Linked DNA regions of Homo sapiens: region 2 is linked to region 1. Evidence: fine-mapped expression QTL. A gene starts in region 1. The other region holds a variant in brackets. All regions are shown on one strand. Distances are from middle to middle.

Evidence for each region. PIP is the estimated chance that this variant, and not a neighbour inherited with it, causes the effect.
Region 2: its variant is the best candidate, but not a certain one, in a credible set for the expression of PPP4R2 in fibroblasts (GTEx, PIP 0.86).

Annotation. Positions count from the first base shown.
Region 1 is chr3:72,994,909-72,999,298 of GRCh38, forward strand. It overlaps PPP4R2 (protein phosphatase 4 regulatory subunit 2), which reads left to right and starts at 1,903. Exons shown (of 9, transcript NM_174907.4): 1 at 1,903-2,163; 2 at 3,169-3,250. The coding sequence starts at 2,130. LOC124909395 (a long non-coding RNA gene) reads right to left here and starts at 2,283. Exons shown (of 2, transcript XR_007095961.1): 1 at 2,199-2,283. RefSeq lists enhancers at 1,528-1,577, 2,838-2,887 and a silencer at 1,758-2,387.
Region 2 is chr3:73,041,169-73,045,558 of GRCh38, forward strand. All of the region lies in intron 2 of PPP4R2 (protein phosphatase 4 regulatory subunit 2), which reads left to right. Among named protein-coding and RNA genes, the nearest start is that of EBLN2, 18 kb to the right of the region's middle. The variant T/G (reference allele first, on the strand shown) is at 2,622.

The DNA of each region.
Region 1 (4,390 bases):
AACAGTGTAAAGGCTGTGTCCAAACTTGCATCTTCTTAGACCAAACAATAACCTTCCTTCCCTCCCTTGGTCCTTCTCTCCCCTCCTTCCTTCCATGACTTTGTGCTATGCTGGGTTTTGGGAAGAGGAGGTGGAACAACGCAGTACCTTTTCTTTTCTTTCTCTCTCTCTCTTTTTTTTTTTTTTTTTTTTTTTTTTGAGACGGAGTCCCATTCTGTCGTGCCCAGGCTGGAGTACAGTGGCTGGAGTATCTCGGCTCACTGCAACCTCAGCCTCCAGGGTTCAAGGGATTCTCCTGCCTCAGCCTCCCGAGTAGCTGCGATTACAGGTGCCCGCCACCAAGCCCAGCTAATTTTTTTTTTTTTGTATTTTTAGCAGAGACAGGGTTTTGCCATGTTGGCCTGGCTGGTATCAAACTCCTGACCTCAGGTGATCCGCCTGCCTCAGACTCCCGAAGTGTTGGGAATACAGGTGTGAGCCACCGTGCCCGGGCAGTACCTTTTCTTTTAAAAGCTCACAGATGAGTATAAAAATGTCCACGCACTGGCTGGGAGCCAGATGATTTGGGTTCTGGGTTCTAGTTCTGTCTCCCCAGACTTGCTGTCTGTGACACAGCTTTCCCATTTGTAAAATGTCAGGGCTGCAGAGGACTTCTGAGGTTTCCGCCCTCTCCTACCTCCTGGGAGATTATGTCATGTAATAATGCTAACAGTGGTAATAAAAACCCAGCCACGTTGAGTGTTCCAGGTTTCACGCACTGTGCCAAATGTTTCACATTTGCCATTTCACTCAATCCTCGTGGCCGTTTTACAACCCTCATTTTATAAATAAGAACCCTGAAGCTGCCTGAGTTTAGGTAACTACTTCAGGGCCACACAAGGAGTAAGTAGTTGAGTTGGGATTTGAATATTGATTCCAAACCTTGAGCTCTTAATGACTTTGCTGTATACATTACTTCTTGCCACAGGTGGGCCAGTGACGAACGAACGTTGGGTTAAGCAGGGAGGTATTCTTGTTAGGATTATTAGCAATGCTTAGTGTATGTATGTATTGTTAATTTTATTATTATTTTTTTGAAACAGTCTCGCTTTGTCGCCTAGGCTGGAGGCAGTGGCGCGATATCGGCTCACTGCAACCTCCGCCTCCTGGATTCAAGCGATTCTCGTGCCTCAGCCTCCCGAGTAACTGGGATTACAGGCACGAGCGACCACGCCCGACTACATTTTGTATTTTTAGTAGAGACGGGGTTTCGCCATGTTGGCCAGGTTGGTCTTCAACTCCTGACTTCAGGTGCTCCGCCCGCCCCAGCCTCCCAAAGTGCTGGGATTACAGGCTTGAGTCACCGCGCCCGGCCTGTATTTATTTTTATATAGAGAAGGGCGAGGGAGCGGGGTCATTTTGTTACCCAGACTGGTCTCGAACTCCTGGGCTCAAGCGATCCTCTCGCCTCGGCCTCCCTCCCAAAGTGTTGGGATCACCGGCCTGAGCCCCCTGCCCGGCCTCGCTCTACGTTTTTTAGGCGCATTCTGAACGTGAAGTGTATACACTGAATTCTCACAGCAACTGCATAGGGCATCAGTACCAGTGCCCTTACTGTACAGATGGGGAAAATGAGGCTCAGACAGGCGAAGTAAGTAGCTTAAGTTCACACAGAGAGGAAATGGCAGGGATTCAAAGCCTAGGAGTCCGCCTGCAACCCTCTCGCCTGACCGTCCAGTCTTCAGCTCCGCGGAGCCTGGGCCTGGGGCTGGGGCTGGGGCTGAGGCTCTGGAAGCCGCCGGGACGCAGACGCCACTGGGCCCCAGCGTCACACCTCGGCCGCGCACGCGCTCTCGGGTTCCGGGCCGGAGCGCGCGGCGGGAGCGAGGACGGCGGCAGGGAGCGTGCGCGCGGTGACGTACCGGGCGCCATGTTGGAGGGTTGGTGGTAGCGGCTTGGGGAGGTGCTCGCTCTGTCGGTCTTGCTCTCTCGCACGCTTCCCCCGGCTCCCTTCGTTTCCCCCCCCCGGTCGCCTGCGTGCCGGAGTGTGTGCGAGGGAGGGGGAGGGCGTCGGGGGGGTGGGGGGAGGCGTTCCGGTCCCCAAGAGACCCGCGGAGGGAGGCGGAGGCTGTGAGGGACTCCGGGAAGCCATGGACGTCGAGAGGCTCCAGGAGGCGCTGAAAGGTGGGGGTAGCTGCCCCCTCTCCATTCCCCCTCACCTTCTCCGGCTCGCTCTTCTCTCCTTTCAGGGCGGATGGTTCCGAGGACCGGGGCCGGGCGCGGCGTGGGGAGAGTGCTTCCCGGGCTCCCATCCCCCTCCACCTCCCCAGGGGCGGGGAGCCCTGTGGGCAGCTCTCTCCCGCCCCGCTCTGGCTTTGTGTCGGCCGCCGGCGTCTGGGCTGGGGGAGGGGAGCCGGGGAAACTCTTGCGGGGGCCCCAGTCTTTCTCCCACCCGTTCAGGGGACGAGTGGCGGACCCGCAGACCCCTCCCTCCCAGATATCCTCTTTTCTCCACCAGGCTACCCGTACGCTAGGCGTTGGGGTGGGAGAAAAAGTAAACGGTTGGTGGGGGCGGGGGTAGGGGGTAGCATCGCAACTTTTAAGTTGTCTCAGTATGCCTTTTTCAGGGCTTTTGAAGTCATCTTTCCGCGCCCTAATTTCGAGGTGGTTGCCTTCACTGTTCTTGATTGCACGCCTTCCACGCAACAGGCTTGAGAACAGTGGCTTACAAACTTCGAGTAGAGAGATTTCAGCGTTTTGAGAATTATTCTTTGACATTCAGAATCATTTGGGGACGGCAACTTGGGGTAGTTGGTGCTTCTTAGAAAGGCAGATTTATGGACTTAGATGAACAATTGGTGGGAGTCGGGGCCTGGGGATTTTTATTTTCACTGGATTCCCAGCTTAATATAATGCTGGTGTTCCCCCGGACCACACTTCGAGAAGCACTGCGTTAAAAATGGTTTGTGAAGTTGAGTGCCCCCTTTAGGAGGATTCTTGTTATCTGTAAAGAGGGTGACATGTTGGAAGTAGAACTTGGAGGATTGAGGTGGTAATTTGGTTGAGAGGCCTTATTTTTTTAATTTTGTATTTAATTGATTTTTAATAAGGTAAAGGACTAGGAGGAAAGTTTGTTTTTAGAGCGCTTTTGAGAAAACTGATAACGTTTTTTTTTCTTCCTTCATCTAGATTTTGAGAAGAGGGGGAAAAAGGAAGTTTGTCCTGTCCTGGATCAGTTTCTTTGTCATGTAGCCAAGACTGGAGAAACAATGTGAGTTGAAAACATGCATTTGTCGTTATAGACCAGTGCATTATTAAGAATTGCTCAGGAAAGGGAAAAAAGTATATTTTGGGATAATTAAATAATTCATTCTAAATTGTAGAAGTCCTGGTCATTTAAATAATTTATATATTTACATTTAAAGAACGTATACGCTTACTTACTTTATACATGGTCTGTAACGGATTTTAAAAACCTGTGTATGTTAAAATTTTCTTTATAGCTAGGCTTTGGCACGCTTAGAGAATGTATTAGTCTTAACGAGCCAGAGAAAGGAAGAATGCCTATTCCATTATGACCCTTTTTGGCCATAACAAATAGGCTTATTCCTAGAATTTTGTGGCTTTGATTCTGTTTCAGAGTCTTGGTGGTATTTTCTCATATTGTCGTGTGTCCAGCCTTTTTTTGGTCATATTTGCATATGTAGGTGTTTAAAGTGTCACTTCTATTTATCGTCTGGAGGACTCTGTTATTATCTGACAAATTCCAGATGCTACAGTTTTGACTTGTAGACTTTCTAAGATAGCTGACTTGTTACATATGCTCAGCATTTTATTCAGCTCGTTTCCAAATGTTCTGAATCTGAAACTTACGCTATAAAGTTAGGGCTGTGTTCAGAAGGAACATTCCAGGTCATTGTTTTGCAGTTTGTGTGGTAGACACAATCTGGCTAAGTTTATTTGTAGACAACAGTGCATCTTTGATGACTTCTTTTTGTAGTCTTTGGGTGGGGGCTGGGGCAGCAGGAAAGGGGTAGGTTTCTATGGTTTCAATGTTAATAAGTGGGTTATCTGCCCAGTATGAGTGTAGCTTTCAGCAAGAATTGTATAATTTCTCTGGCTTTATTATTAGCAAGTGTTCATTTCTCACAAGATTTGCTTATTTGTAGTCTAGCCTTTTAACAACTAGCCTAATTTTAGAAAGAAAAAAACCTTTGCTGCCTCAGTGCTTGATTTAATGGTCATGCCTGCAAGCTGAGTCTCCTTAGTATTCTATTAAAATACACCAGTCATTTTGAGAACGTCAGTGTGATGTGTTCAATGTTGTATTTCTATTTATTACATTAAAAAATGGGACCCTCTGGGCGGGGGAAGTCATTTTTACCTTCGCATTAGGGTTTCATATAGAACA
Region 2 (4,390 bases), 46 kb after region 1:
ATTTTCATATATGTGTGGGTGTGCTTCTCCGCTCTCTTCTGTTCCACTGATCTATTTTAATGTTCAGTTAGTCGACAAGATGTAATATGATGTGGAATGATAATGTAAAAGAATCTCTTGTTTCGTGCCCCATTTATAGAGAGAGTAATTTGTGTTTTAAAATTAGTCCTTTTAAAAATGTCATAATTTTATGTAAGCAACTCAGTGTTTTCTTACTTTTGCAGATCTTTCACTTATTTAATTCAGTATTCAGATTAAATATACTTGTTTTGTTTGCCTCAGTCATATAATTAAGACTGAATTATTTGACATTTTAAGTCATCTGATTGAAATATCTGCCTTTTAAACATTAAGTGTATTTTAAGCCTGTCACCTTTAATGAATGATCATCTCCATTAGATTTTATTTATTCATTCTTCTCAGATTCCCGTTTGATGTTTATAAATGGTGCAGTATTTGCTATCCTTTGGAGTAGCTAATAGTAGTAGGACTCTCCTGAGCTTTGTTGTGCTCTTAGTGTTCCTCACACTTTGTGTGCAATGCAGATAGGCTGAGTAGAGAGTAATCTTAGTAGAACTGGAAATGTTAGGAACCAGTACGTTAAGGTGGTTGGCCGCTGGCCACTAAATTGTTGTAGCACCACTTGGGAAAAGAAAAGATGGATTTTCTGTCCTTAAGCCTCTGGAAAATACCTTTAGCCTTTAGAGAATTGTGAGAGAAACATGTTTGAATATGAACTTGTGAGTTCCTATGGAGAAAAAAGGTCAATGTAAAATCTAGCACCAGGATATATTTATTAGAGATATGAATTGTACTTTCCTACAGGAGAAACTGCAAAAATGGGAAAATGGAAGGGGAGAAGAAAAAGGAAGTGAAGGGAGGTGAAGCTACTTAGTTAATGGTGATTAATTTCAGTACATTATTGAGTTAATTTCAGTAAAGTAGATTTAAATTTTGAGTATGTATTTTATTGGAGGGGATTTTATGTGGAGAAATTTGTTCTGAAGTTGAAAATGTGTTTATGTCTTATGAGCATCTTTTTAGAATAATTTGATTTTCATATTGAAAGCCAAGGGTTTTTTTGTTCTCATTTCTACTCATCCAGTGAGTGTACATTCCTAAGAAATTGTTTTTGTTGCCAAGTTTTTAGTTGATTTGCGCATGGCCTGTTTTTTGTGCCTGAATATAATTTCTTTTTTTTTTTTTTTTTTTTTGAGATGGAGTCTCGCTGTGTCACCCAGGCTGGAGTGCGGTGCTGCAATCTTGGCTCACTGCAACCTCCGCCTCCTGGGTTCAAACAATTCTCCTGTCTCAGCCTCCCGAGTAGCTGGGAATACAGGTTTGTGCCACCACACCCAGCTAATTTTTGTATTTTTAGTAGAGACAGGATTTCACCATGTTGGCCAGGATGGTCTTGGTCTCTTGACCTTGTGATAAGCCCGCCTCGGCCTCCCAAAGTGCTGGGATTACATCCGTGAGCCACCGCGCCTGGCCCCTGAATTATATAACTTTTAGGGAAGCATTTTCTGTTTTTGTTTTTATCAAATAGTTGTCCTCCATCAAAAAGCTGTATCTTTCACATTTTATGAATGCCCTCCCCATATATATATGTGGAATAGTATCACTTGAATTGCATCGTATTGATCTAATTTAGAGTAACTGCTTGATTTATTTGAAAGTTAAGACTACAGTGTGTTCATAATTCATGTCAATTTATGGGGCTTAATTTCTGTCTCATGAGTTAGTGCCATAGAGTCTTTGAATCTCTTCAGAATTTCCATTACCTGGGATCCCATACCTCTTGTCTGGCTGTTCCCATTAATGTGCTTTTTTTGGACCGCAAACATGTCATGTCAGATGGTTAATGGAAAGATGAGATTAAAACACACCACAAGACTCTGTGCATATGGAAATCTGAACTCACGCTATGAATTGGTGATTATTAAAAGCACAAAAAATTATTAATTTAAGAAATGAAAAGTATAAGCGTCCTATTTCAGTATAACTTGCCCTGGTATGTTTAAGTATGAAGTGCATGTGGAGAGTCTCATAAAATTTAAAGATAAATTTTAGGAACCAAAAGCAATTGTACATTAATAAGGATTAATATTAGGCATATCAAAAATTCTGTGAAATTAAAAATTAAAAATTCTGCTTGTTAAACCTCAAATTCCCCTTTCTAAAATAGGATAGGGAAAGGTGGAAAAAACTAATCATGCAAATAGCTTTTAATTATCCTCACCATTTTTAAAAGTAATAGCATACTTTTAAAATACATAATTCACTCATTTAATAGAATGGAATTGTTGGATTACAAATCTGCATTTACCTTTCTGAGGAACTGCCCAAGTACTTTCCAAAGCAACTACACCATTTTACTTTCCCACCAGTAATGTATGACATTACCAGTTTCCCCACATCAACCCAGCACTCGTTCATTATTCATCTTTTTGATTATAGCCACCCTAGTGGGTGTGAAATGGGTGGTTTTGATTTGCATTTCTCTAATAGATAATAATGCTGAGCATCTTTTCATATGCTTATTGGCCATTTGTGTATCTTCTTTGTGGGGAAATACCTATTGAAATATACCTAATGTAAACCTTACCATTTTAACTATT[T/G]GAAGTGTACAATTTATTGCCAGTAAGTACACTCACGATGTATGTTACCATCACTATCATCCATCTGCAGAACTTTTCATTTACACAAACTTGAAACATTGTACACATTAAAGAATAAGTCCCTTCACCTTCCTCCCCACAGTTCCAGACGACTCTAAATTGACTATTCTTGATAGCTCATATAAGTGGAATCATACAATAGTCGTTCTTTTTGTGTCTGGCTTATTTCACTTTGCATAATGCCATCAAGCTTAATCCATGTCAGAATTTCTTTCAGATTAAAGACTGGATAATATTCGTGTGTGTGTGTGTGTTTATCTCTCACATTTTGCTTATCCATTCATGTGCTGTTGGCACATTTGGGTTGTTTTCACCTTTTGGGGATCTATGGAGAAATGGGATTCCTGAATCATAGGGTGGTTTCATAATTTTTGTTGTTGTTGTTGTTGTTGTTTTTGGAGCAACCAAACTGCTTTCCACAGTGACTGCATTGTTCCTACCAGCAATGCACAAGAGTTTTGGTTTCTTGGCTGGGGGCAGTGGCTCACGCACTTTGGGAGGCTGAGGTGGGCTGATCACGAGGTCAGGAGTTCGAGACCAGCCTGGCCAACATGGTGAAACCCCGTCTCTACTAAAAATACAAAAAGTTAGCTGGACGTAGTGGTAGGCACCTGTAATCCTAGCTACTTGGGAGGCTGAAGCAGGAGAATTGCTTGAACCCAGGAGGCAGAGGTTGCAGTGAGCCGAGGTTGCACCACCACTCTCCAGCCCTGGCAACGGAGTGACACTGTCTCAGAAAGGAAAGTTTCAGTTTCTCTACATCCTTGGCCAGCCAATACTTGTTCACTTGTTTTTTAGATAATAGCCAACCCTAATGGGTGTAAAGTGGTATTGTGATTTGGATTTACATTTCCCCAAGATTAATGGTGTTAAGCATCTTGTGTGTTTGCTATTTGTATATCTTCTTTGGAGAAGTGCGTATTTAAGTACTTTGCCCATTTTTAAATTGGGTCATCTTTTTTGTTAAGTTGTAGGTGTTCTTTATATAATCTGGATATTAACCCCTTATCAGATAAAAGATTTGCAAATATTTTCTCCCATTTCACGATTTGACTTTCTGCTCTGTTGATAGTGTCCTTTGATGCACAAAATTTTAAATTTTGATGTAATTCAATTTATCAATTTTGTTGCTTGTGCTTTTGGTATCACACAGTATCTTTAAGAGACAGGGTCTTGCTCTGTCGCTCAGGCTGGATTCCAGTGGTGTGATCTTGGCTTACTGCAGCCTCTACCTCCTGGGCTCAAGCAATCCTGTTGCCTCGGCCTCTTGAGTAGCTGGGACTACAGGTGCATACCACCATGCCTAATTTAAATTAATTAGTAATTAATTATTTTGTAGAGACGGAGTATTGCTGTTTGCCCAGGCTGGCTTCCAACTCCTGGGCCCAAGTGATCTTCCTGTCTCGGCTTCCCAAAGTGCTGGGATTACAGGCGTGAGCCACCACACCTGGCCTCGTATAATATTTTTATGTCGACACTGGTTGCCTTCAGAATATTTTGGGACTATATCAGGAAGCTTTCAAGCTCACAGTGAAGAATAAAAATTGTCCAGACTTTTAGTTTTTTGCTTAGAAGTTCAAATTTTTATCATTGGTAACAAATACTGTCAGTTATTTATCTTGAAATGACAGGTTCACTTTATTTATTTTTGAGAAAATGTCTACCACATTCTCCTAATTTTTTTTTTTTTTTTGGAAATGGAGTCTTGC